Linked DNA regions of Homo sapiens: region 2 is linked to region 1. The links come from fine-mapping of genetic effects on gene expression. Tissue or cell type: gastroesophageal junction. Region 1 holds a variant in brackets; the other region holds the start of a gene. All regions are shown on one strand. Distances are between the middles of the regions.

Evidence for each region. PIP is the estimated chance that this variant, and not a neighbour inherited with it, causes the effect.
Region 2: it holds the start of SNX29, and the variant in region 1 is fine-mapped to the expression of SNX29 in gastroesophageal junction (GTEx, PIP 0.92).

Annotation. Positions count from the first base shown.
Region 1 is chr16:12,533,106-12,535,860 of GRCh38, reverse strand. The region is part of intron 20 of SNX29 (sorting nexin 29); the gene reads right to left. It also overlaps a transcript of SNX29-AS3 not described here. Among named protein-coding and RNA genes, the nearest start is that of SNX29-AS3, 77 kb to the left of the region's middle. The variant G/C (reference allele first, on the strand shown) is at 1,108.
Region 2 is chr16:11,975,233-11,977,732 of GRCh38, reverse strand. It overlaps SNX29 (sorting nexin 29), which reads right to left and starts at 999. Exons shown (of 21, transcript NM_032167.5): 1 at 920-999. The coding sequence starts at 926. It also overlaps a transcript of NPIPB2 not described here. RefSeq lists a silencer at 730-1,189 and an enhancer at 1,684-2,335.

The DNA.
Region 1 (2,755 bases):
TAGGGCTCCCATGGCCGATCTAAGCACTGAGAGGCCAAAGTGGCGGCAAGGCTTACACAGTGGCTGCGGCCTCTATACTCTGAGGACCTCCAGAGGAGACACACAGTGGTGGAAGACGAGCGTGACCAAGCCTGGCTTTGTTTACAAGGGGCACAGAGGACCCACAGTTACAATGCAGGACCTGGAAAGCCCCAGCCCTGAAGATATTCAAGACTGCTCTGTAAGTGCTTCATGTTGGTGTGACTGACAGTGACAAAGGGTAGAGGCTTGCCAATCGTGCATACCCAGCTCACACTCCCCATGCTGCCACGTCCCAGCTGTGAGACTATGGCTTGGCCACTTCACTCTGTGAGACTCAGTTTCCTCATCTGGAAAAAAGGGACAGTAACACTAACCTCAAAGAAAGGATGTGTTAATAAATGAAAAGCTGGCCAGGCGCAGTGGCTCATGTAATCCCAGCACTTTGGGAGGCCGAGATGGGTGAATCACTTGAGGCCAGGAGTTCGAGACCAGCCTGGCCAACACGAAACCTCATCTCTACTAAAAATACAAAAATTAGCTGGGCATGGTGGCACATGCCTGTAATCCCAGCTACTTGGGAGGCTGAAGCACAAAAGTCGCTTGAGCCCAGGAGGCAGAGGTTGCAGTGAGCTGAAATCACACCACTGCACTCCAGCCTTGGTGACAGAGTGAGACTCTGTCTCAAAGAAATGAAAAGCTCCTGGCCTAATACCTGGACCCTGGCGGGTGCTAAATACATGTTGGTTTCTCCTCCCTCTCTCTTTTTCTTGACTGTGGAGTCCCAGTGCTTTGTAGCTGGTTTTATAAGACCCAACGAGCCAGCTTCTCAGGCCAGGTCTGGGCTTCTCAACCTTCACACTAATGACGTTCAGGTCAGATAACTCTGCTGTGCAGGGAGGAGGCCATCCTGTGAGGTGTAGGATGCTCAGTACATCCCTTGCCTCTACCCACTAGATTCTCGTGGCACTGTCCCCCATGGTTGGGACAATCAAAAATGTCTGCATTCACTCCCAGCTGTGCCTGGAACTGGGGAGTAAGGCAAAATTGCCCTTAGTTAAAAACCAGAGGGGTAGACGCAGAAAGAAA[G/C]CCACTTGGGTTTAGTAGGGCAAGGGGCAGTGAGTGACAGGGGAGTGGCAACGCCAAGAAAAGCAGAATCAAAGATCCTCCGACAGCCCGTCTGCAGGGAACTCCTTCAGGTGAATTTTACCCATGAATGGAATTTGCTTTTTGAATTTAACAGGTGACAATACCAGACTTCTTTTTCAACCCTAATAACCTGTGACCAATTTCCCTGAACTGACACAACTGCCCTCCAAAGACCCACTTTTCTTGCTGAGCTGCTAAAAGCAAAACAAACCCCGAAAACAAAAACCAAAGCCTCCCTAATCTGCGTTCTTTCTACAGGCAACCGAGTGCAGCCGCTGGCTACACAGAGGACAAGAAGCAAAAGAAGCTGCCACAGAGAAGGTGTGAGAGGTGCAGGAAACCTCTCCAAAGACCAGGACATTTGGCTGGGCACAGAGGCCCTCATTAGGAGCACGTCTCCCACACGGAGAAAGACGGCAGGTGTGCCGGCGGTGCTTGGGCACTGAGCAGACATCTCTAGCCCGACGATTACTCCAATGGACCCTTTCTCATGGAGCCCACACTCTTATGAAGACCTCAGTCAGAACCGCAGAGGCCGCGCTGCCCTGAGGCCTGGTGTTGGAGCTGTCCTGGTTAGCACCTTGTCATCGCGATCCCCTGGGGTCAAGTGGGATCCCCTGCTGCCCTCACTCTGCACTGCTTCACATGTTAAACAGACTTATGCACCAAAGTCCCCTTTTGCCCTGGAAGGCTTTTAAGGTACAGTGGACCCCATGTGGCCCACAGATGTTTTAAGCAAACAAAGGAGTTTCCAACCAACTTAAACATCAGATTTTATATGAAGATGTGCATTTCTGCCACGTCTTGAAAAGGTCAAGGACTTCTATCCAGCTAGCTGCAGTCCTATATAACAGGAATCAGCCTGGTGAGGAGTGGCTGATCCCTTTTGATGGGGCCTATGAGCTGCACTCCACACCACTCCCTGCTGACAACTCAATGGCTTAATTCACTTATATGACCCACCCAGACCTACAGGCACCTGAGTTTGCCAAGGCATCCAGTCGACAGAGGTAAATTTGGGGTGCCTATTGATGCTGGAAGATCACAGAACCAAGGCCCCAATTTGGGGTGTCAGTCCAGGTAGCGGGGTGTCTCCTCCCTCCAAATAATATACCTGGTTGATAATGACGAGGCTAAGAAAGTAAGAAATGAGGACAAAAGGCTGCAGTGGCTGACGGGCTGCTCTCTGATGTGACAAGTCTGTCCAGGAACCCCACTGCTGGGGATGGGGGTGGGGAGGTGCAACATTAGTGTCTCACCTCCTGTGGGGTGGAAATATGCATCAACACATCACAAAAGGGGCGAAAGACTCCATGACCTCAAACAGCCTCTTAGCATCTAAGCTATCCCAGGACCCACAGGGCCACAGGTACCAGCCCACGAACAGTGACTAGGGCTGACTTTCCAGGAAGCTGCTACGGATTCTGCAAAGCACTCCACAGGAGAATCAGCTGCCCTTTGGGCAAAACAGCAGCAAAGTGTCCTCTGTGGCCTCAGATGGCTGCTGGTTCCAGAATCCAGTTTGTTCAGAGAGAGGCCCTGCCTGGCAAAGGCGGCCGTGTTTCTAAGCAGAGCTGTCGAGTTGAAC
Region 2 (2,500 bases), 560 kb after region 1:
AGGGACTAAACTTCAGAAAACATTGAGGACGAGCTGCCCACACCCACCTCCCTCTCACTTCCAGCATCCCCATCAACACCACCCCCTCGATGGTGAGAGGAAGAAGTTTGGACTGGGAAGAAGAAGGACGAAGTGACGGTCCCCAGATGGGCTGGGCACGGGACAAGAAGGGAAGGGCTGCAGGACAAGGCAAGAGAGATCTTAAATGATAATGATGAGCCAGGATAAGACATGGACAAGGATGGAATATGCAAGGATCATCGAAATGTAAAAGCCAGGACCGGAGAGGGAAGCCGAGTGGGTAACTGGGAAGAACTGGTGATGGGAAGAGCAAAGCACTGGGAACAGGGGTGGGAGGGATGAGAGGGATGGGGAAGACAAACGGGTTGCAGAATTGAGCTCCTCTGGGGACCAGAAGCTCCTGGGACACGGGGGTACTGGGGTCAGCAAACTAACTGTCCAGAAAGACTATGCCTGTGTGGAAACTGCAGGGACTGGAGACCAGGGGCCTGGGTAGCGGGGATGACTGGGGATGGGGGACCTGGAACTGGAGCTGGGACGCAGCGGGTCTAGGAGTTAGGAGAGACTGAGACCTGGGAGGTCTCAGAACTGGGGGTCTGGACACTAGGCAAGGGGATCGCAGGACTGGAACAACTGGGGACAGGGGTTTAGGAGCTGGTTTTTATGGATGGACAGGAGTCAGGAGACCAGGAGTGCCCCGCCACGGGAGATCAGAGACCCGCAGGTGAGCAGGGGCCACGAGCCGGGAGTCCTGGGGGCCAGGGGTCTGGAAAAGGGAGCGACTGGGAGGGGGTCTGCGAGGGAGCGGGGCGCGAGGACGCAGGGGCCGGAGTGTGCAGCTGGAGCGGCGGGAGCCGGGGCGGCCGGGGCAGGTGACAGCGGCGGGGCCGCCACTCACCGCTCATGGTGCCTCTCCCCGGGCCGGTGCCTGCGCCGCGCCGCCGCCGCTGCCGCTTCTGCGGCTGCCGAGCTCCAGACAGGCCGGGAGACAGGAGCCCCGCCCCGGCCGCCCCGCCCCGGAAGTAGAGCCTGGCCGCCGACGAGGCCCCGCCCGCCGACCCGGAACGTAAACCGCGGCGCAGATCCAAGTCGCCGGACCCGGTGTGGAGAGCGGTGCTGAGGCTACGCGGGCTGGAGACTCAGGGTAAACCCGAGACCCCGCGAGGAGGCGTCGCTGTCCCCAAGTGCCCAAGACGCCTCCCCTGCCTTCCTGAGGTTCCCACGAGTGATGGGGCGACTTCGTCCCAGAGAGGGATGCGAGCGGGAAAGGAAATAAAAATAGAGGAACGGGACAAAGCGTGGGCACAGGCGGATGGGCAATCCCGGAGGGCCTCTCTAAGGAGGCGACTTCTGAGCCCAGACCTGGATGATGAGAGGAACCCAGTCCGGGAAGATCCCCAGGGAAAGTGTTCCATAAGGAGGGGCAATTGCAAGGCCCCTGCCTGGAGGGGTTGACAGGAGCGAGGGGATGAGTGAGAAAATAGGCCTGGTGCGGTGGCTCACGCCTGTAATCCCAACACTTTGGGAGGCCGAGGCGAGCGGATCACCTGAGGTCAGGAGTTCGAGAGGGTGAGTGAGAAAAGGAGATTGAGGAGGTGGAGGGAGGGCCTTGCAGGCCAGAGGAAGGAGTTTGGGCTTTTCTGCCTAATTCTAGGAAGGTCCCAGCACTTGGGAGGGCGGAGGCAGGCGGATCGCTTGAGGCCAGCAGTTCAAGAGCAGCCTGGGCAACGTAGCGAGACGCCGTTCTCTACCAAAGAAAAAAAGGACTCAAGCAGAGGAGTGATACGATCTGAATTAGGTTTTAAGATATGGCTCCTAGGCCGGACGCGGTGACTCATGCCTGTAATCCCAAGGCATGATTGGGAGGCCAAGGTGGGTGAATCACCTGAGGTCAGAAGTTCGATTCCAGCCTGGCCAACATAGTGAAACCCCATCTCTACTAAAAATACAAAAATTAGCCAGGCATGGTGGCGTGCGCCTGTAGTCCCAGCTACTGGGGAGGCTGAAACAGGAGAATTGCTTGAACCCGGGAGGCAGAGGTTTCAGTGAGCCGAGATCCCACCACTGCACTCCAGCCTGGGTGACAGAGTGAGACTCCCTCTCAACAACAACAACAACAAAAATGGCTCTTCCTGGGATGAGAATGAATTATAATGGGGGCAGGGTGGAGAAAGAGCAGGTGGTTAAGGAGTTATTGCAGTTGTCCAGGCAAGACATGGTGCCTGTCTACAGTGGTGGCAGTGGAGATAGAAAAGGTGATGGATTGGCCGGGCGCGGTGGCTCACGCCTGTAATCCCAGCACTTTGGGAGGCCGAGGCGGGCGGATCACGAGGTCAGGAGATCGAGACCATCCCGGCTAAAACGGTGAAACCCCGTCTCTACTAAAAATACAAAAAATTAGCCGGGCGTAGTGGCGGGCGCCTGTAGTCCCAGCTACTTGGGAGGCTGAGGCAGGAGAATGGCGTGAACCCGGGAGGCG